Regions from separate parts of the Homo sapiens genome. Here region 1 is linked to region 2. The links come from fine-mapping of genetic effects on gene expression. A gene starts in region 2. The other region holds a variant in brackets. All regions are shown on one strand. Distances are between the middles of the regions. Region 1 overlaps NRDC (nardilysin convertase). Region 2 holds the start of NRDC (nardilysin convertase).

What was found.
Region 1: its variant is fine-mapped to the expression of NRDC in whole blood (INTERVAL, PIP above 0.99).

What each region holds. Positions count from the first base shown.
Region 1 is chr1:51,824,374-51,832,373 of GRCh38, forward strand. NRDC (nardilysin convertase) reads right to left here. Exons shown (of 31, transcript NM_001101662.2): 5 at 3,423-3,496; 6 at 914-1,009. Among named protein-coding and RNA genes, the nearest start is that of MIR761, 8.0 kb to the right of the region's middle. The variant G/A (reference allele first, on the strand shown) is at 3,525.
Region 2 is chr1:51,874,631-51,890,823 of GRCh38, forward strand. It overlaps NRDC (nardilysin convertase), which reads right to left and starts at 4,097. Exons shown (of 31, transcript NM_001101662.2): 1 at 3,645-4,097. The coding sequence starts at 3,985. RefSeq lists enhancers at 1,887-2,418, 4,087-4,381, 4,265-4,444, 4,835-5,388 and silencers at 4,135-4,184, 6,142-6,339, 8,693-8,893.

The DNA of each region.
Region 1 (8,000 bases), 54 kb before region 2:
TCGGCCTCCCAAAGTGCTGGGATTACAGGCGTGAGCCACCGCGCCCGGCTATCTAATTCTTAAAAATAAAACACATGAAGCAAGAATGCCCTATAAAATGTATATAACTGTACAGAAATATACAGGGAAACAAAACACCCTTTAAAGAATAATTCAGATCATCTCATCCTAAATTTTACTCTATAGTCAACAGGATTAATATGAGGCTGTAACTAAATCCTCCCACTAAGAAAATGCCATTATGAAAAACAGACACCAGTTAAACAGTTTACTAGATGAACAAAATTAAGTCGCAGTTCAAAAACTCTTACAGAAACTATTGCTAACTCTGTTGACAAATGGAAATGTCAGGCTGAGGTAGAGCACAGACTTTATAATCAGATAAACAGATGTTCAAATCTCACATCCACCACTTACTATCTGTGTGATTTAAACAAATGAGATAACTTGACTGAAATTTAAAATAGAGATGGGGTCTCACTATGTTGCCAAGGCTGGTTTTGAACTGGTCTCAAGTGATTCTCCCACCTCAGCCTCCCAAAGCATTGGGATTACAGGTGTGAACCACCACGCCTGGCCTAAACCTGTTTATCTTTAAATGGAGATGATAATGGTACCTATCTCTGAACATTGTGATAATGATCAAATGAAATAATTCATGTAGTGTTAGCACAGTATCTGGCACTTAAAAAGCATTCACAAAATGTTAGGTGTTACTCTTGCTATATTCACTGTTAGAGAACCAAATAGAGGCATATTTAACAACTTCGCGTTTGAAAGGCTAACTAGCTATCCTAAAAGGTAAAAGGTACCTAGGGACTCTAGCTTTATAATTTTCAATTCTTTATCAACTTTTCTTATTCTAAATCTTAACTAGAAAATATGAAATAAGATGATGTATTTAGTATCTTACCCCAAAAAAATTTTCCCATAGGATGTCCAGGTCTAGCAAGGCTTCCAAACAACATTTCCTTTCTGTTTGCATCAGAAGGCCTTGCAAGTTGATATTCTGTCAATTTTAAATAAACACATAATAAAACAAAATTCAGTATCTCCTTTATTATATGGAAATTCAAACTTACAGAACAGAAAGCAAGGAATTAACAAAATTAACTTCATGAATCACGTGTTATAAGACTGAAGTGGGAAACTCAATGATCCAGGCCTGGCTCTATGACTTAATATGACCTGTAATTTTGGGTAAATCAATTCAGCTTACCAGAGTCTTACTCTTATTTTTCAAATGAAACACAAGGTAGTTAATAATCTGAAAGTTTCAGCTCTAGGATGCTATGTACAAGATTTTACTGATGAAAATGCTAATAAAATATTAATCCTTTTATCTGGGAATTTGGTCATATATATTGTTTAAATTTCTTCCAAAACCAACTATGTTGGTAATAAAGTATGATGGCTAAGAACAATCCACTTTGAAGTCAGAAATACCTTTAGCTACCGCTAAAGACTGAATGTTTGTGTCCCCCCACCCAAAATTTCTATGTTGAAACTTAATCCCCAATGTGATGGTATTTGGAGGTAGGGGCCAATGAGAAATGATTAGGTAATGAGGGCAGAGCCCTCATGAATGGATTAGTCCCTTGTAAAAGAGACCTCAGAGTGCTCCCTTGCCCCTTCTGCTGTATGAGGACAAAGAGTGAAGGCAGTTTTCTATGAACCAGAGAGCAGGCTGTCACCAGACACCAAATCTGCCAGTTCTTTGATCTTGGACTTCTCAGCCTCCAAAACTGTAAGAAACAATTCTGTGGTTTATAAGCCACCCGGTCTGTGGGATTCCATTATGGCAGCCCAAATGGACTAAAAACCGCTAGAACTGCAGTTCTGACACTAAGCTCAACAACCTTGAGGAAGTTATCTAACGTACCTGATTCCATTCCTCCAAAACTGTAAGAAAATAAATGTTTTATTTTAAGCCACCATGTTTCTGCAATAACAGGTAATATAGCAGACATGTAAACATATCTACGAAAAGTGATTTAAGACCCCTTGCAACTGATAAAAATAGAGTATAAATATCTGAACACTTAGAGACCATATTTGGAAAGGAAACAAACATTAAAAATGAAGAAGTAAGTAAATAAAAATAGAGACTGCACTTTGACACATAATTAAGATTTAAAAAGGCATTGGACATGCCTTTCATCTCAATCACTAAGACATACTATGCAGGCAATTATATATGTTTATGTGAGTATAAACCATCATTAAAATAAAAAGTCAATTATTAAAAATAATTTATCAGCCGGGCGCAGTGGCTCACACCTGTAATCCCAGCACTCTGGGAGGCCGAAGCAGGCAGATCATGAACAAAAGCACAACAGAATTTTTACTTTAGTTCAGCATAAACCAAAACTCCATACTGTGTGTGTATATACATATATATTTCTTTCAGCATAATTTTTCAAAGCATAATAAAATATATTCTGGCTTAAAATTGTAAAATCTAATTAAAGGTCTGCTTGTTTAAACACTGGTGTCAACCCACTCTAGAAACTGTATAAAGAAAAACATACTAGAAAGCATTTAAGACACAGATAACAGTTCTTGAGTCTCAAAATATGAAAAGTGCTTTTAGTTATCCTTAGTTGTTTTGTTTTTTCATCCATTCAACAGGTATTTAACTGGGTTTAAGGTAAAACAGACACTGTGGTAGGCAAGTAAAAAAATAAAGAAAATAAATCCTTGATTTCCAAGGAGCTACTACAGCTAGGAGGAGCTTAACCATTCCATCCTTTTTTACAAATAAACTGAATGCCACAGCTAGACACTTCTGTAAGTTAAACAGGGGTCTGTTGACTTCCAGATAGATCACTCTAGCCATCTGTAGTTTACTCAGCCTAGTAAATGCTTTACATCATTATTAGAACTAGACACTGCATCAAACCAAGGAGGGAAATACTACAAAAAGTGGAACAAATACAGAGACTTGCAGTGGCTATAAGCCAAGCCTAACCTATATGAACTGGAAGTCCCCTCAAGTCTAGTATTAAATGCTTCTAATACTTAAATAAATCAAGCAGGGATAATATACAATGGTGATATTTATTGGTACTATGTAATTAAGGAATATTTATAGCACAGATCTATAATGAAGCCTCACCCTATATAAGCACATTCTTTTCCTTTATAGTCTTCAATCTTTGAATCTCAAAAGATTAGCCCCTATGGTAAAACCTTCGAAAAACAAAGGATGAAAAAACTAAAATCCACCATCCTTTTCATTTACTTCAAATCTACACTGAATTAGATGTTTAATGACTTCAGGAACAAACATAACACATATTTCAATTTAGTCCTTTAAAATATAAAGATAAAATGGTCTAGAGATAAAGAAGGATAAATGTAATAAGTAACTGGTTTCATGAAGGAAAAAACTGTAGTTACACATAAAGTACTCCTCTTACCACTATCAACAGCTTCAACTTCACGGTCAATTGCATCTCTGATCATTAGTGGGTGGATGAAGAACTGCGCCCATCTGAACAAAAAACAAAACTGGCATTTCC[G/A]TTTTTGTTCACTTTCATCAATCAACATCTATTATTTTAATTAAGAAACTTACTAAGTTGGAGATTTAATTCACAATCCTAAGTATATAAAATCTAAATAATCTGCATTTCTATATTTTAAACTAATATCTACATGTTACTTTAACTTTTTCATTGTGAAATATATTTAATAACAATCATACAGAAAAGTTAACAAAACATGAACATATAAACTACACCTGAGTGGCCCACCCAGGTGAAGAAACAGACCATAGTCAACACTCTAGAAGCACCCAGCTCCTACCCTTACCTCAAGAAATATCCTGAATGTATAGCAGTAATTTCTCTCCTTTTCTTTATAGTTTTATTACCTATATACCTATTTCTAACCCAATGTTTATCAACCCTTTTTATTTCCATTTTCAACCCTTAGGAGCCTTTTCGGAAATGTTCTCCTATTCATTCCTTTGTAAAATTGTAATATCACAGATAGTCTATTTATGTAATGTTATGTATATCCATGTTTTTATAGAGTATATAAAGCTTACTTTTTTAGTTCAATGCAAGTTTACAGATGACTAAAAACGTTTCAGTTAAAAGTTAAATTAGAATTTTAAAGACTTGGTATTTAAGTTAATCTTATAATTTCATCTGCTTTTTAAATTAATTTTTAATTATATAAACTGTGATGTATCAAATTACATATACAAATTACCACTTATATAAATACATAATAGCAATGCAATTAAATTGTTAAAAATTATTCAAAGATTGGTGTATTGGTGTTTTTCCAGCAAAATAGAATGATTTAAAAAATTAATTTCCTAAAATGTTTAGTAAACTTTTTTTTTTTTTTTTTGGATATAGTGTCTCACTCTATCACTCAGGCTAGAATGCAGTGGCACAATCACTGCTCACTGCGGCCTCAAACTGCCGGGTTCAAGCAATCCTCCTGCCTCAACCTCCGAAGTAGCTGAGACTAGAGGTGTGCACTACCATTTTTTTTTAAATCTTTAAATTTTTTATAGAGACAGGGTCTCCCTATATTGCTCAGGCTTCTTTAAAAAACTTTTAACTTTTGCTTGCAATAAGGTAACTTTTAACTTAACTACCTGCTAGATATATTGGGGCATTTTTTTTCTTTTCAGTACTTGGTATGATTAATGATGGGTTGGATAATTTCTGTTGACTTAAATAATGAAACTAATTTTATTTAATTCTGTCACCCAGACTGGAGTGTGTAGTGGCACATCACGGCTCACTGGAGCCTTGAACTCCCCAGGCTCAGGTGATCCTCCCACCTCAGCATCCCAAGTAGCTGAGGCTACAGGCATGTACCATCATGCCCTGCTAATTTTTTTCCCTCACCATGTTACCCAGACTGGTCTCCAGCTGCTGGGCTCAAGTGATCCACCTGCCTTGGCCTTCCAAAGTGCTGGGATTATAGGCATGAGTCACCATGCCCAGCCTACTAACATTCTTAAAAGATATTTTTATTTAGTGTACAATTTATGATTCTAGTTATTAGTTGGTAGTTATTTTCCTTCAGAGCACGAAGTTGAGTAGTCATCTGTAAGTGTAACTCATCTTCCTTTGAAGAAAATTTTCTCTTTATCTGGCAAAAATTTTCCATATTTCTTCTAATGTATCCTTTTGGAAGTTATTAGACTTTAACCTCTGATTTGATGTCTTACAACAGGTTCTGAAAATTTTCCAGTGATCAACCCTTCAACTGTTGTCTCTACTTCAATTTTCTCTCTCCTCCTTCTACAACTACAAGTAAAATACATGGGATGTTTTCATTCTATCCTCTATGCTTCATATTCTTTGTATTTTTAATTTTGTGCTATATGCTATATTTGGGTTATATATGTTCTTTATGCTATACTTGGGTTAATTCCTTCTGTCTTATCTTCTGGCTTACTAATTCTATCTTCAACTCTATTTACTCTTAAACTTGTCCATGACATTTTCAATTTTTTTTATCATAGTTCAGTTCAAGATGTATCTTTTCATTTTACAAATTTCCTAGGTCATATTTGACAGTTTCTTATTCCTTGCAAGTATATTCAAATTTGTCTTTTATTTCTTTTTTTTTTTTTTTTTGTGACAGAGTCTCGCTCTGTCACCCAGGCTAGAGTGCAGTGGCACTATCTCGGCTCACTGCAAGCTCTGCCTCCCACGTTCAAGCGATTCTCCTGCCTCAGCCTCCCAAGTAGCTGGGGCTACAGGCACCCGCCACCGGACCCGGCTAATTTTTGTATTTTTAGTAGATATGGGGTTTCACCATATTAGCCAGGCTGGTTTCAAACTCCTGACCTCGTGATCCACCCGCCTCGGCCTCCCAAAGTGCTGAGATTACAGGCATGAGCCACTGCGTCTGGCCTTTATTTCTTAAAAAATAGAAAGTATAATTATTTTAGAAATTGTGTGTAACTATGCCAGTACTTGAGATGTCTCAGAATCTGTTTGTGTTATCTGTTCTCAATCATGTTGTATTATTTTCCTGAGTACCTGCTTATTTTTGACTGAATGTTGGTTATTTTACTTGAAAAAATATTTGTAACAATTTAGGGCCTAGAAGGAAGGCATCTTCCTTTTGAGATGCCTTATGTTTGCTTCTCCCAGGCTCCTGGGAACACTACCAGTTCTGCCCATGAAGCTACAATCAAGACTTGGGGTTCCCCAGAATACTCAGGCACTTGGAATCTAGGCTATAACTACTCAGGACGCCTCATCCTTTTTCACAACCTGAAAGTGAAGATTTTGTATTCCCGCTTATAATGGGGAGGGTCTCCTGTTAGAAGTGGACATCCTAAGCTTTGATATTTGTCACTCTTACCATGAAATACTGATAAAATAAAGTTCAAATTTACTGAAAATAGAAGACGCCACCATGGTAAAGACGGCTTCCATGCTCACTTACTTAACTGGAGTAAAAATTTAGTCATTTCCTCAGCTGTTTATTTAAAAGATACTTATAAACAATGTGGCCTGTGTGAGGGAATCAGATTTTGCTAACCTATTAAAAACAGGTACTTAATCCATGTTATATAAGAGCATATTACACACGTATAAAGGCTTTTCCTTATACATTGTAGAAGTATAATATTATAGCATTTATTATAGTATTTGCACCCTATAATGCTCTACTTATGGCATAAATTTATGATTTGATATTCTCATTAATTTATCCTATTAATGCAGTGGCTTTCTTATTGGGTGGCTTTCTTTTTAAATAAAAATAAATGTGTAAGGTGATATTCTTAGATGCTGAAGCAGTCCTTGTACAAAACATATTTAGAACAACTCTTTAAAAGGAAACAAAACAAATTTCTTAACTACATTTTATACCAAATTTCATCATCTCTGAGATGGCCAGAATGTATTCATATCATACATACCATTTGCCTATCCTTTTTCCCAATAAAATCAGTTATTTTTCCTTCTTTGTATATGGACAAAGCTAAATATAAAGTTGTAAAAATTCAACTTGTCTTCTGCTTAAGATTTCTTCACACATACAAAGACCTGTTTGGATTCTGTAAAACTTAAGAGCTGAGAACTCTGTAACAAGAGTAAAGATGCAGTTTTCTTCAAAGTTGTATGGTTAAAGTCTCCTCTGAAGGTATTGCTGATCCTGTCTAAATTTATAGGAAAGATCATCTCAGGCATCATTTGCATTGCCTTCATTGATTTATCTTTCTTTTTTTTTTTTTTGAGACAGGGTCTCGGTCCATCACCCAGGCTGGAGTACAGTGGTGCGATCTCAGCTCACTGCAACCTCCGTCTCCCAGGTTCAAGCAATTCTCGTGCCTCAGCCTCCCAAGCAGCTGGGATTACAGGCCTGCGCCACCACACCCAGCTAATTTTTGTATTTTTAGTAGAGATGGGGTTTCACCATGTTGGCCAGGCTGGTCTCGAATTCCTGGGCTCAAGTGATCCACACACCTTGGCCTCCCAAAGTGCTGGAATTATAGGCATGAGGCTGCAGTCAGCCGAGATCACATCACTGCACTCCAGCCTGGGCAACAGAGTGAGACTGTCTCCAAAAAAAAAATAAATAAATAGTGGCATATGCTTCCAATTTATAGGAATATGTCCAAAGGATTTTTCCAGATCAAATTAATCTCTTAAGAAAAGAGATAATTTCTTTTTATTTTATCTTTTTTATTTTATTTTGTTTTTGAGACAGAGTCCCACTCTGTCACTCAGGCTGGAGTGCTATGGCATGATCTCAGCTCACTGCAACCTCCGCCTCCTAGGTTCAAGCAATTCTCCTGTCTCAGCCTCCCAAGTAGCTGAAATTACACGCACATGCTACCAAGCCCAGCTAATTTTTGTGTTTTTAGTAGAGACAGGGTTTCACCGTGTTGGCCAGGCTGGTCTCGAACTCCTGGCCTCAAGTTATCCGCCCACCTCGGCCCCCCAAAGTGTTGGGATTACAGGTGTGAGCCACCACACCAGGCCAATTTTTAAAAAAAATATTAGATCTCT
Region 2 (16,193 bases):
AATAAATAGAATACACCACTACTAATCCTGCCCAACCAGAATTTCCACTCAACACCAATAAAAATTTGAATATCAATTCCCAACCTGAAGTCCCTTAACCCTTCCAGAAGGGAAGGGAATCAATACTTGGTAAGCATTTAATACAGATCCCTAAAAAAGCATAATAGGTGTCCTGGAAATATGCCCAACATTTCAAAAAAGCGGAATACAAATTACACATATGCTGAAGTAAAATTCCGCAGGCTATTAATAAATGCAGACTGGTAAATCTTTCAAGGTATTATTTCACCACAATATTCCTCTAAATGGGTCCTCCTCTGGTACTTATTCAAAAGATATATAATATGATGCTATGTACTGTAATGGATCGTGCACAAAATCCTACTGAAATACAATGGAAGGAGGAATTAGTTCTGCCTAGAAAGACTTCACAGAGGGAATATCTCAGCAGAATCTGGAAGGATAATTCAGCTCTGTGGGCTGCAGATGCGTCTAAGTGTGTTTCTGGTTACAAAAATTCATAGAATTGAATTTGGATAAGTCTTTAAAGATCACCTAGTCCTGAGGCTTTCCACCTTTATTTTAAACTAATAACATCTTTTCTTCAAAAGTCTAATTGAAACTCCAGTATATAAAACAGGTAATATGGAAGAACTGCTCTTCTGAAAGGGGAGGGTTATTGAAAAACACTGCTGTTCTAACCAACCCCCTTCGTTTTTAAAATAAGCTGAGACACTAAGAAGGACAATGACTTGGCAAAAGCCATATAAAGACAAAAACGCAACAATTTTCAAAGAACAACTCTTAAGCATTATCTACTCTTTGAAGTCTTTCCTTTCTCCCCCGGTGGAATTTATCAATGTATTTCATTCCTCAATATATCTAGGACATACCTCCGTTATGGCTTCTATAAAACTTTAGTGCCCTAGTTTTATTTATTTGTTTTTTGAGACAGTGTCTCACTGCCACCCAGGCTGGAGTGCAGTGGCACGATCATGGCTCACTGCAGCCTCAACCTCTCAGGCTAAGGAATCTTCCTACCTCAGCTTCCCAAGTAGCTGGGACTACAGGCACACACCACCACACCCGGCTAATTTTTTGTGTGTAGAGACAGGGGCTCACTATGTTGCCCAGGCTGGTCTCGAAATCCTGCGCTCAAGTGATCCTCCCAACACGGCCCCCCAAGTGCTGGGATTACAGGCATGAGCCACCACAACAGTCTCTAATTTTTTTTTTTATGTGTCTGTGTCCCTCTCTACTATTGTAAGCTCCCTAAAGGCAGGTACTGGCTCAATCATTTTTGTATATTCACCCAGACTAACATGTTATTTATTACATTATATTTGACCAAGTTTCAGAAAATATTTAATCTAGCTTGGTGCCTAGCACACAGTAGGACTTAACAGGTATTTATCAAACAAATTTACCAAAAATGAGGTCAGTAAATGAAATAACACATCTAAAACAGTTACAACAGTAGCTGAAACACAGTGTAGATTCCATAAATATTAGTTATTATATAACTTTATATAGGCTGGAAAAAACCCTGAAACCATTATTGAACATTTGATCTGGAAGGCAAAAACTAAGCACCTTTTATCAAGTTTTCAACTTGCTCATTTATACATTGCCAATACAGGTTGAGTATCCTTTATCCGAAACACTCGGGACCAAAAGTATTTCAAATTTTGGATTTTTTTGGATTTTGGAATATTTGCGTATACGTAATGAGGTATCTTGGGGATGGGATGCAGTATAAATACAAAATTCATTTATGGTTCATATATACCTTATACACATAACCTGAAGATAATTTTATACAATATTTTTAATAATTTTGTGCATGAAACAAAGTTTGTGTACATGAACCAACCATCAAAAAGCAAAGGTGCCAAGTGTGGAATTTTTCACTTGTGGTGTCATGTTGGCGCTCATAAAGTTTTGGATTTCCGAGCATTCTGGATTTTTGGATTAGGGATACTCAACCTGTACAATCACATCTTTGATGAGAAAGAAAATTTAGCTCATTTATAAAGATCTCTTGACTCTGGCAGCCTGGAGAAAATATATCTAGACTTGAAGTGAAAGGAGAAATTAGGTTGGTCCTGAACTTGGAGCTAAGTGTCATCTGTCAAAGAGGTGTGGTGGGAAGTGGAAAAGATTATCTATAAGGTTGTTTCTTGCGCTAACGCTGTAGGGGCTTATAACAAATTTAGAACTAGAATCCTTCAGCTTTCAATTCACATAAGCAAGAAATTTGTAAAAAATCGGCAAACGGGCTGGGCGGGGTGGCTCACGCCTGTAACCCCAGCACTTTGGGAGAAGAGGCGGGCGGATCACAAGGTCAAGAGATCGAAACCATCCTGGCCAATATGGTGAAACCCCGTCTCCACTAAAAATACAAAAAATTAGCCGGGCGTGGTGGCGAGCACCTGTAGTCCCAGCTACTGGGGAGGCTGAGGCAGGAGAATCGCTTGAACCCGGGAGGCGGAGGTTGCAGTGAGCCAAGATCGCGCCACTGCACTCCAGCCTGGTGACACAGCAAGACTCCGTTTCAAAAAAAAAAAGGAAATCAGCAAATGATACACTGAATTTGGTGTCAGATAGTAGGGGTCATCATACCAGCTCTGTTATTATTTAGCTGTGTGATTCAGAGCAAGAAGCAAACTCTTTGGGTCTCAATTTCCTCAACCTGTTCAACGAAGTTATTGGACAATATGAACTCTATTTAAAATACATCAAAGTCCAGGCCTGGCACAGTGGCTCACGCCTGTAATCCCAGTACTTTGGGAGGCCAAGACAGGAGGATTCCCTAAGCCCAGGAGTTTGAAATTAGCCTGGGCAACATCGCAAGACCCAGACTCTTATTAAAACACACACGCACACACACACACGCAAGATACATCATAGTCATGATACTCCATGAAATAAGCTACCTCTGAAGGAAAATACTCAGGTGGGGACTGAATCACCAATTATTAGAAATGTTTAGAGAACTCCTGTACAAACCAAAAGTAGAGAATTTCAAGGTTAGAAGAAACCTTACAACTCACCCAACTGAGACCTAAGCCCTCTCTAATATATTCCTGGACGAGGTCGCCCAACCGTTTTGGTAATGGAGAACTACCCATGGAAACAAGTCACTTCAACTTAGGCCAAATATGATGCAAAGTTACTTTACTGAAGCCACACCATCCTCTGGTAACTTTCGTCCACTAGTTTCACCTATCACTTAAGTGTCCCTCAAATATTTTGGATAGTGATAATATGCCCCTTAAATATCCTGTCCTCCAAATTAAAGTATCCAACTCCGTCAACCTTTCCTGGTAACATAATACCAAGACTCCCTCACCATTCAGGCTGCGTTCCTCAAAGAAACCTTCATTCTTGCTTTAGCGACTGTATTCAAATGACTCGAAAAGCTTCTCCCATTCTGACGTCTTACAACCCAAGATCTCCCACTTGCCCAGCTGACACCACAGGGAAGCCTCTAATCACGCTTGCCACCTCCACCCAAGGAAGCATTTGGGGTGGAAAGTGTGCCCTGTTGCTCCATTGGGAGACATGGAGACAAGAAGTGACGGCGGCACCGACAGAGAAGCCGGCACACTGTTCGCCTCCCCATTGCAAGCCTCCTCCCTCACCGGTATTGCTTGGGGTCGCTGGGAGACTTGACGATCTCAGGGTCCCCAGCATTACTGAGAGACCCCCTCCGTCCCTCTTCCTCAGATTCATCCGCTCCTAGACGGGCAACCCGGCTGTTCTCGCCCAGATCCTGTCCATTGGGCTGCAGGTCAGGGCAGCTGCAGGTAGACTTCGCCTTGTTCCTTCCAGGCATGGCCAGAATAGGAAAGGGTCTGGCAGCAGCAGAGTCTTCGCACCGACCCCGCGTTTCGATTCCCCAGAGCGCCGCGAGCTCCCGCCCGGCCTCACACAACTTCCTCCGGGTGGCACAGACTGCAGCAACAGTGACTCTCCTCAGCATTCACCACCAAGCTGGAGCGATGGACATCCCGCTTCCCAGGACCCACCTCCTCCGCGTTCTAGAGGCGGTGGCGGCCGGCCCTGGTGCTGCCGCAGCCGCGGGGAACAGGCCTGAACCCCTCCCCCAACCCAGTCTCCCTCTCGCCGACTTCCCTCGTCCCTCCGCCCTCCCGGCCGCCGATGACGCTACTGATTTCAGCCAATCATGAGGCAAGAAAGTAGTCACGCTCACGTAAGCAACCAATCAGAACAGGAAAGGAGAGGCACCAACGTGACCCGGACTGATTCTCGGAACAGCCAGCGAACATTTCGAAACCCAAAGTGGGCGGGGCGAGGGAGAAGAAGCGGAGAGAGTGGCGCGGAGGACGACGGGAGAAGGGCCCCCGGCGCGTTTATGACGTACGAGTGTGTTTTGTGGAAACCACTGAGTAGTGCTCCGCGTGTCAAAGAAAAATATTCCCCTAATGAGAAAACTGAGAAACGAGTGCAGAGAATTAATTCCAAAGTTTTAAATTTTCCCATTCGTGTCATAGTTTGGGTACCCTACTCCTCAGACCCGGGGCGAGCCTTCGGCTGTGACTCAGCACATAAAAAACCAGAACGCCGGAAGTATTTTCCTACACCCGCCGGATGGACGCTGCTCCCGAGCGCCGCAAATACTAATTGGCTCTTCTCTACCCTACAGTCGGCCCGACAGTGGTGGGGTTTCATCCTCAAGCCCTAAGAAAGTGCTAAAAAGACCAGTCTGGATGTGCTAACTCTTCTGTGTGAAAACGTTTTTTAGCTCCTCCAGCCTCCTGTTAAATTCGGCCAATTTTTATCGAGCAGCTGCAGCGTCTGCTGCCTTCAAGTCTCCTTTCCCAGTTTTTCCCGCTAGCAGTGGTCTTTGGTTAGCAATGTAAAATGTGACGGAAATACAAACATAAATGAAAGCTAAAAAGCAGCTGAAATTAGTAAGATGCACTATACTGACACCATGGGGTAAGAGATCATAGCTCATACATACGAATGAGCGGGGAAAGACGTGAAGCAGGGAGATGTGTTGATAGTTACTGTATCTTCAAGGTTTTCGAGGCCTCTTCTGAGTTCCAAATGCAAGGAATACAACCATGAACAAAACAAAACTTGCCTTAGGCTGGGCGTGATAGTGATAGCTCACACCTATAATCCTAGTACTTTGGGAGGCCGAAGCGGGAGGATTGCTTTGAGCCTGGGAATTTGGTACCAGCCTGGACAACATGGTGAGACCCCCGTCTGTACAAAATTCTTTTTTAAAATTAGCCAGGCTTGGTGATGCGTGCATGTGGTCCCAGCTACTCAGGAGGCTGAGGCAGGAGGAACGCTTGAGTCCAGGAGGTCGAGGCTGCAGTGAGCCGTGATTGCAACACTGCACTCCAGCCTGGTTGACACAGTGAGACCCTGTCTAAACAACGACAACAAAAATTTAAAGCCTTGCCTTGGGGGAGCTTGCATCCTAATGGGAAGGAACTGTAAAATATGTAAACTAAAGTAAATCAGGCTTTTAAATAATTCAAGTTAGCTTTCTTCAGAAGTCTTATTGAGGACTGCCACCTGGGAGAGTCAGAGAGTTTTTTTTTTAGACTGCTCCAAAGCAGTGTTTCAGCCCGCAGCTTCTATACAGGTGGTGGCCGCTCTGCATGTGCTTGGAAGTTAAATCAAATGTGCTCAGAAAGGCTGGGCCTGTAATCCCAGTGATTAAGGAGGCTGAGGCAGAAGGATTGCTTGAGGCCAGGCATTTACAACCAGCCTGTGTAACATATCAAGACTCTGTCTCCACACACACATAAAAAAGCAAGGCGTGGTAGAACATCCCTGTAGTCCTAGCTACAGGAGAGGCAGAGTTAAAAGGATTGCTGGGACTCCTGAGTTTGAGGTTACAGTGAACTATGATTGTGCCTCTGCACTCTAGCCTGGTGACAGAGCAAGACCTTGTCTCTAATAAAAAAGAAAAAATGTACTCAGGAGTTACACTAGAGCAAAATCTCATGAAGGTTTAGGTGGAAGAGTACACATGTTTATAGATTATGGAGGCATAGTCATTAATCCTGTCAGAAATGTACAGGAAGAGGCAAGGTCGAGCATCATTGGATTTATCTTTTCTAAAAATGCAGTGATTCAGGCAAGAGACATGGGAACTTGTGCTCTATCCTGCATATTTTCAGGGTATTCTGGAGGGCTGTGCGCAGTCACTGAGGCTGTGAAATTCTGCTGGCAAGAGAGTTTGTGAAATTCTGCTGGTAAACAGAATGAGCAGACATGGCTTCTTATGTTTGCTACTTTGTCTCACATATACAAAAAACAATAAATGCAATGAAGACAAATTGTATAGGATAGGAAGATAAGGAGTTAGGGAGGAAGGGTACAATGATTCAGGTAGAAAATGATGGAACCTGAACTGGAGCAGTAGATGAGGTAAATTGAAAAATACTGTTTAAAATATCCCAGTTTGTTTCCATACATCTTTTCAAGAACTTACCACTTTAAGCAACTCCACTAGACTTCTCTTCTTCAGAGCAGTGGGTTGTTGTTGGTTTTATTTGTTTGTTTGTTTAGAGATGAGTTCTCACTATGTCTATCCAGGCTGGTCTCAAACTCCTGGCCTTAAGCCATCCTCCCACCTCAGCCTCCCAAATCACTGGGATTACTATAGGCATAACTACTGCACCTAGCTCACAGCAGTGGTTTTTAATTAAATTTTTCTAACTAGATACAAAGGTGGGCTGGATCTAATGGCATGTGTCTGTAGTCCCAGCACTTTGGGAGACTGAGGAAGGTGGATCACTTGAACCCAGGAGTTTGAGACCAAACTGAATATAGAGAAAACCTGTCTCCACAAAAAATACAAAGAATTAGCTGGGTATAGTGGTGCATGCTTGTAGTCCCAGCTACTTGAAAGGCTGAGGTGGGAGGATCACCTGAGCCCAGGAGGTCAAGGCTGCAGCAAGCCATGATCATGCCACTGCACTCCAGCCTAGGTGATAGAGTGAGACCCTGTCTCCAAAAAAAAAAAAAAAAAAGAGACAAAGATTGCATCCTGAAGTGTGAGCTGCTTTAAAAAGAGGTCTCTGGCGGAGGTTGCAGTGAGCCAAGATTGCACCACGGCACTCCAGCCTGGGCGACAGAGCGAGACTCTGTCTCAAAAAAAAAAGTCTCTGTGTGGTGGCAGACACCTGTAATCCCAGCTACTCAGGAGGCTGAGCCAGAGAATTGCTTGAACCCAGGAGGTGGAGGTTGCAGTGAGCCAAAATTGTGCCACTGCACTCCAGGCTGGGCGACAGAGTAAGACTCTGTCCCCACAAAATAAATAAAAATAAAAGTCTCTGAATCTTACAGGTTACCAGACTGTAGAAATATGGTAACATGCACAGGAAAAATACCTCTGATGCTGAGCCCAATACAGTTCTAACTCCATAGCACATGTGAGGCAGTCCATTCTTCATTCAACCAACAAATTGAGCTCGTGGTATGTGCCAGAAACTGGGAATACAGTGATGAACAAGAAATTTTCCTGTTCTCTTGGAACATAAAAGAGAACTAGTGGGAGAGACAAACATTAAACAAACACACAAATTTTAAATTTATAATTGTGAGTAGTTCTGGAAAGATATAAACAAAGGGACCTAGACTGGTCAGAGTTTCTCTAAAGAAGGGAAATGGGCCAGGAATGGTGGCTAACCCCTGTAATCCCAGCACTTGGGGAGGCAGAGGCGGGCAGATCATGAGGTCAGGAGTTCGAGACCAGCCTGGCCAACATGTCAAAACCCGTCTCTGCTAAAAATCCAAAAAAAAAAAAAAAAAAAAAATTAGCTGAGCATGGTGGCATGCATCTGTAATCCCAGCTACTCGGGAGACTGAGGCAGGAGAATCACTTAAACCTGGGTGGTGGAGGTTGTAGTGAGCCAAGATCGTGCCACTGCACTCCAGCCTGGGTAACAGCGAGACTCCAACTCAAAAAAAAAAAAAGGTAAATAAGGGAAATGTAAATTAACATTTGAAAAATGTATAGGAATTGGGTGTAGGAATATACATACTTGTTCAAAAGCCCTGAGAAAGCAAGTCAGTATGGCTAAATTGTAGTGTACTAATCTGGAAGCAAAGGGGAAAGCAGTCCGTGGTCGAGATCATAAAGAACCTTCCTATGAGTAAGAGGTCATTGCCTTATCTATTTTATATATCATTGGATCCCCAGCTTCTAGAATAGTTTCTGGCACACTGTGGTACTCAGTAAATAATGGTTGAACAAAAGAAAAGAGAGAGTATGATCACAAGTGTTTTCCAAGTAGACCGCTCTGGCTCATGTATGAAAAACATTGGATGGTGGGGGCAAAGGCAAGACTGGAAGAAAAGAGAGCAGTTAGAAGGCTGCTGAAGTCATATAGGCAATAGAAGATGATACCTTGGATTTGAGGAGTGATAGTGGCGATGGAAAGATGTAGATAAATAATATGTATTCAGGAAGTAGAATTGCCCAGTATTAGGTAGTGATTGATTTGATGTGGGAGAATAAAGAGAGAAGTGTTAGGTATAACTCCCTGCTGTCTGGTTTTCTGGATGGATCGATGATGGTGCCAGTAACTCAGTAAACAGGAAATTCTGAAAAAGGAGTTTTGGTAGGAGAAGAGTATACTAGCTCAGTTTTGGACATGTTAAGTTTGAGTTATTTGTGAGAGACACAGATGAAGATCAGGTCTGAAGCTCAGAAAAGAGACCTAAATTGGAGATAAAAATTTGAGGTTTATTGGTTTCTAGGTGGTAACCAAAGCTTATTGAATGAGATCACCTACACTGAGATTGTGAAGTGAAAAAAGGGCCCAAGGAGAAAGCTTTGAGGAACTTACAGAAGAGGAAGAACTCACAAAAGAGACTGAGAAGGAACTACCAGGGTGTTAAGAAGAAAACCTGTGTGATCACAGGAAAAATACCTCTGATGCTGAGCCCAATACAATTCTGACCCACAGCACATGTTAGAAGTGTCAGATCAGAGGCCCGGTGCAGCGGCTTATGCCTGTAATCCCAGCACTTTGGGAGGCCAAGGCAGGAGGATCAGTTGAGGCCAGGAGTTCAAGACCAGCCTGGTCAACAGGGCGAAACCCTGTCTCTACTAAAAATACAAAAATTAGCCAGCTGTGGTGGTACACCCCTGTAATCCCAGCTACTTGGGTGGCGCATGCCTGTAATCCCAGCTACTTAGGAGGCTGAGGCAGGAGAATTGAACTCTGTCTCAAAGAAAAAGAAGTGTCAGATTAGATATATAAAATATAAGAATTGGCAAGGGATCTCTGAATTATTTTAGTCTGGTGTCTTCAGATATAAAGATAAATACCTATTCAGGTGAAACTCAAAAATGACCAATAGGCATAGCCAGGACTTCCAAACCAGAAGTATTGTTTTCCTATTTAAAATAATTTGGAAAGTTACCATCTCTCATTTGTATTATAAAGAGTATTCCTCAGAGGAAACAGGTAAATTAAGCTATTACTTTGTTGTTGTTGTTGGTGTTGTTGTTTTCCTTTTTGGAAACAGGGTCTAGCTCTCTCACCCAAGCTGGAATTCAGTGGCATGATCTCGGCTGACTGCAATCTCTGCCTCCCAGGCTCAAGTGATTCTCCTGCCTCAGCCTCCCGAGTAGCTGGAACCACAATCACAGGCATGCACCACCATGCCCAGCTAATTTTTTGTACTTTTTGTAGAGGCAGGGTCCATGTTGTGCGGGCTGGTCTTCAACTCCAGGGCTCAAGTGATTTGCCCGCCTCGGCCTCCCAAAATCCTGGGATTACAGGCATGAGCCACTGTGCCCAGCGAAAGTATAACTATTATATAGGAAACTGAGGGCCGAGGTTGCAATGAACTGAGACTGTGCTACTTCACTCCAGCCTGGGCAACAGAGTGAGACTCTGTCTCCAAAAAAAAGGAAACTGAGGCATCAGGAAGTTAAAAGGAACTTGATATCCCCAATAAAGTTAAAGAGTACAAGACTGTAATTTTTAACCTCATTTTCCGAGACCTTCTCTTTTCTTTTTTGAGACAGGGTCTTTCTGTGTCACCCAGCCTAGAGTGCAGTGGTGTATTCATAGCTCACTGCAATCTCAACCTCCTAGACTCAAGCAATCTTCCCACCTCAGCCTCCCAAGTAATTGGGACTACAGGCATGCACCACCATGCCTAGCTAATTTATTTTTAAGAGATGGGGGTCTCACTATGTTGCCCAGGGTGGTCTTGAATTCCTGGCCTCAAGCAATCCTCCCACCTTGGCTTCTCAAAGTGCTGGGATTACAGGTGTGCACCACTGGGCTCAACCCAGACTTTTTCTTTAAGTTTATTTTTTAATTTCTTAATATTTCTTCGGTTTCAGACCCTGACAGACTTTCTGAGAGTACAGTATTTAAAGGCTTTTTTACATTTCCACTTCGTCTTCAGCCACCTTAAACTCCTTTCCATTTTTACCTCAAGGATTTCCCTCCCATCAGATTTGGTGAGCCTTGTCTCCCTATTATTCTGGTGAAAGTTTAGAAATCATGAAAATTAAAAACAGCTCATTTCTGTGTTCGATCCCTGCCTCTGAAAGTTAATTTAGTCAATGCAAAAGGGACAGATCTGAGCCTTAATTTTTTTTTTTTTTTTTGTAGATGGAGTCTCACTCTGTTGCCCAGGCTGGAGTGCAATGGCGTGATCTCGGCTTACTGCAACCTCTGCCTCCCAGGTTCAAGCAATTCTCCTGCCTCAGCCTCCCAAGTAGCTGGGATTACAGACATGCACCACCACACCTGGCTAATTTTTTGTATTTTTAGTAGAGACGGGGTTTTGCCATGTTGGCCAGGCTGGTCTTGAACTGCTGACCTCAGGTTATCCACCCGCCTCAGCCTCCCAAAGTTCTAGGGTTACAGGCGTGAGTCACCGTGCCCAGCCTCAGCCTTACTTTTAAAAATTAAAAGATAAATTATTCTTAATTATCCATCTTTATAATTGAAAGTCAGGATAAGGCAGAAATGTGGAATGTTGACTCTACATTGAGTAGATTGGAATAGTATGAGCCCATTAACATCTCAAACCCCAAATTATCTCCCCCTTGCTTTAATGTCTAAAATTCCTTCATTAGTGATTTATGTCCCTTTTTATAACTCTTGTTAAATGCCAATAACACCCTCGAAAGGATTGAAAAACTAACCCATTTTGTGAATGGATATGTTTTATTTCCTCTAGTTCGAAGCACACTCTAGGCAACTTCAGATCACTATGAATCTGGGGTAGGTGAAGAGATTGCTAAATCTAGGGGGAAAGACACAGAAAGAAGAGGTAGGTAACAAGAGAAATATTACCCACTTCAACATTTTGTCCAGGGCCCATGCGCTAAGAAATTATACCTTTGGAGCTCTGGTTATTAATTGTCCCACCCACTGATTGCTATCCACATTTGGCAGCTTTGTATCTAGGTCAAGAAGTAGGCATGTTCTTATGGAGTCTTCTCCCCCGAAACTGAATGTGTGCACAATATACCAAGCAATTTGTGTGACCATAGAAATAGTTTTCTCAGCCAGGCACGGTGGCTCATGCCTGTAATCCCAGCACTTTGGGAAGCCAAGGCAGATGGATCACCTGAGGTCAGGAGTTCGAGACCAGCCTGGCCAACATGGTGAAACCCCATCTCTACTAAAAATAGCAAAATTAGCCGGGCATGGTGGCTCATGCCTGTAATGCCAGCTACTTGGGAGGCTGCGGCAGAAAAATCACTTTAACGCAGGAAGCAAAAGTTGCAGTGAGCTGAGATTGCACCACTGCATTCCAGCCTGGGCAACACAGTGAGACTCTGTCTCAAAAAAAAAAAAAAAAGTTTTCTCCTATACTATAAACATAGTTCTAGAAGAATTTGATGTTCAAAACTTCGTGATAAATTAGGAGTGACTCTAAAAAATGTGACAAATGAAATATTATTTTATCACAAATCAAGCTAAGTTGCTCCTCATCTCTGGACTAAAGATACATATTTTTTGAAACTCTGCCTGGAAAGAAGAATGTAAAGACACAAAATAATATTTAAAAATCTAATTATATTATTCGCTTTTAAGAAACCCATCATGGCATTCCTTTGCTCTTTGAATAAAATCCAGCCTCTTGCTATCGCTTATATGGCTTGCTTATTAATTATTTCTGTCCTTCCTCTAAGTCTACCATCTCATCTACCATTCAGCTTTTTGCTCCAGTCACACTGGCTTTTTAATGTCCTTCAACACACTAGAGTAGTTCCTGCTTTAGGGCCATTACCTCTGCCTCTCTGCCTGGAGTGTTCTTACTCTAAATTTTGCATAGCTGAGTTCTTCACACCAGTCATATGTCAGAAAACATGTCACTCTTAAGAGAGGCCTTTTCTTATTCTATCTAAAATAGTACTCATGGTCAGGCACGGTGGCTCACACCTATAATCCCAGCACTTCGGGAGGCCGAGGCGGGTGGGTTGCTCAAGCCAGGAGTTTGAGAACAACCTGGGCAACATGGTGAAACCCCGTCTCTACAAAAAATACACACACACACACACACACACACACACACACACACAAATTAGCCAGGTGTGGTGGTACATGCCAGATACTTGGGAGGCTGAGGTGGGAGGGTTGCTTCAGCCCAGGAGGGTGAGGCTGCAGTGAGCCATGATCATGCCACTGTGCTCCAGTCTGGATGACAGAGCAATACCCTGTCTCAAAATAATTAATTAAAATAATACTCATCATCTGAAATTATATTATTTGTCTATTAGCTTACTGTTTAGGCCGGGCGCGGTGACTCACGCCTGTGATCCCAGCACTTTGGGAGGCGGAGGTGGGTGGATCACAAGGTCAGGAGTGCGAAACCAGCCTGGCCAAGATGGTGAAACCCTGTCTCTACTAAAAATAAAAAATTAGCCGGGCATGGTGGCAGGCGTTTGTAGTCCCAGCTACTCGGGAGGTTGAGGCAGGAGAATTCCTTGAACCTGGGAGGCGGAGGTTGCCGTGAGCCGAGATCGTGCCACTGCACTCTAGCCAGGGTGACAGAGCGAGACTCCATCTCAAAAAAAAAAAAAAAAAGCTTACTATCTATACATACCCTCTGTATGTTATAGGCCCATGAGAAAGCTGGTACCTCATTTGTCTTGTTCCCCACTACATCCCTAGAGTCAAAAATGGGGCCTGGCATGTGGTAGGTATTCAACAAATACTTGTCAAATTGATGAATGAATGATACAGGAAATTGAAGTTTCAAGATCCCTGGAGAGACAGAAGAGTGGGATTAGCCTTAAATTGTAGAGGAACACCATTATCATTTGGCCCAGAAGGAAAGATACACAGATAGGTGCAAATGCAGCAAAAATTTTACATCGTTTTAGGAAGAAAGAAGCAGAAAGAAGCAGCAGGAATTTAAAAGAGTTCCCTTCTAATAGTCCCCAGCCTCCTTTTTTGTTTTGTTTTGTTTTGTTTTGAAACATGATAGAAAGTCAGTGTTGGGACTGAAAGGATAGGTAGTAGTATAGAATGTTCTGCTTTCATGGGAACTGGTAAATGCGATATTTGTCTTTCTTTTTTTTTTTTTTTTTGCTTGTTTAAATTTCACATGTCTTGAAGCCAAGCCCAGCTGGTAGTTTCTGTTTCTTGAGTAACTGTAATACTTTGTGCCAAGACTGTTTCTTTCTTTTTTGGGGGGATGTGGGGTTGGGGGGAAGAAGTCTTGCTCGGTTGCCCAGGCTGGAGTGCAGTGGTGCAATCTCAGCTCACTGCAACCTACGTCTCCTGGGTTCAAGCAGTTCTCCTACCTCAGCCTCCTGAGTAGCTGGGATTACAGGCACCTGCCACCATGCCCAGCTAATTTTTGCATTTTTAGTAGAGACGGGGTTTCACCACGTTGGTCAGGCTGGTCTCGAACTCCTGACCTCAGGTGATCTGCCCGCCTCAGCCTCCCGAAGTGCTGGGATTACAGGCATGAGCCACCACACCTGGCCTCTAAGACTGTTACTTTCATTAACTCACTTAATCCTCACAGCAACCTAAATATGTTATTCACCAGTTTATAGATGAAGAAACTGAGGTCGAGAGAAGTTAGATAACTTGCACAAAATCAACAATAGGAAAGTTGGACTACTGAAATTGCAAACCATGAGTGTCTGATTCCAAAGATTATATTTTTTCATCTCTTACATGTTGCCTGTCACATACCTAGAATAAATAGACTTATGATGTGTTAATTTGATCATTGATATTCCCTGCTGTAGTTAACCCCAAGTCTAAGCTTTACTTTATTTAATTTTATTTTATAGAGACAGGTTTTCACATGTTGCCCAGGCTGGTCTTGCACTCCTGGGATCAAGCAATCTGCCCACCTTGGTCTCCCAAAGTGCTGGGATTATAGGGTGTGAGCTACTGTGCCCAGCCAACCCCCCAGTCTAAGCTTTAAATGTAATATGCACAGTAACAAATGTTATAACATGTACACGAAAATGACAGTTGATAACTCTCATTAAGAAAGCATCTGGCTTTCCAACAGCCTGCCTACCTTCTAAATAATTGTGTCTAAAAATCATTTACTTAGGTAGAGCTAAGCAAGCCTGGCACCTGTGTCCAGCATGTGTGGTAACAGCATGATGATATTTGTTAGAGCATGCACGGTTAAAGAGGGTGACCACATAGGCTGATAGTGCAAAGTGTCCGAATCCAAGCAGAGTGAGGAGGGGAGAGGTGAGGGCCGCAGTAACAATGGGAGATTGGTTACAAACGGGTGATTTACCAAATAAATAAATATATTGAGGATAATGGGAGATGGGATCCAGGCTTCTCACTGTAGATGTAAGGAGTTACAAATATGGAAAAGCAGAAAATTAGAATGAACTCTGTGGTGTTGGATTGGAATTGTAGGTATTTGTGTAAACTCATGATTTGCAATAGGTGGACATAGAATAAAACATAGATGTGTGTGTGTGGCCGGGCGCAGTGACTCATGCCTGTAATCCCAGCACTTTGGGAGACCAAGGTGGGTGGATAACCTGAGGTCAGGAGTTTGAGACCAGCCTGGCCAACATGGCAAAACTCCATCTCTACTAAAAATACAAAAACTAGCCTGGCGTGGTGGCACCCGCCTATAGTCTCAGCTACTTGGGAGGCTGAGGCAGGAGAATTGCTTGAACCCGGGAGGTGGAGGTTGCAGTGAGCCGAGATTGCACCACTGCACTCCAGCCTGGGTGACAATGCAAGACTCTGTCTCAAAAATAATAATAAAATGTGTGTGTGTATGTGTATGTGAGTATGTATATACATACATATATTTTCTAGCTATGTTCACTAAGAGGACCTAGGAGCAGTGACACCCCAACAGCAATGAGCATACCTAACACCTCCATTTTGGTTTCCAAATGCATTTTGCACTAAAAGGCCATTTTCCAATAAAAAGAACCAAAGCTTCCTGGAGAAATGACTGATTCCAAGGCTAGGGCAGAGAAGGTACAAGATGAACCTGGAACATCTTGCTAAGCCACAAAGTAAAGAAGTATTCATAGAATAATGAGAACATATCAAAAAGACACAGAGTCCAGCTTGGAGGGACTCTCACTCCCAGGGCCAGAATGTGGACAATTTGAGCCTCAAAATAAATAACAATAGTATTAATGGGAATTAATGTGTCTAAACTGCTGAATGAATGAATGAAAGAAGAAAACTTTTTGTTACAGTATAATACCAACAATAAATGTACAAGCAATGATGGAATTAGAAAATCCCCATTTGGCAACCATAACAGTAATAAATCAACCAAGAAACATCTATGTATGCTAAACTTCTTGGTACACATCTGATGAGGAATGGAATATTTACATAGTCTCAAAGTACCTCTTCACAAAATACTTATTAATTAAGAAGGGACAAAGAATAACTTAACAGTGGAAAAACCTGGCAAACACCACTTAATCTGTAAACTAATATTATTAGTAAGGAGACAAATTGAAATTGCTATAGCCTGACAGTATGTCACGAGGAAAAACCCAGCATGCCTTCTGTGCTATTCCTGCCCAAAATGCGTAACTTGAATCTAATCAAGAAGAAACACCAGACAAATCAAATTGAGGGATATTCTATAAAATAACTCACCTATAATCTTTACAAGTAGCAAGGTCATGAAAGTCGAAGAAAGACTAAAGAATTGTTCTGATTAAAGATTAATGAGACATAACTAAATGC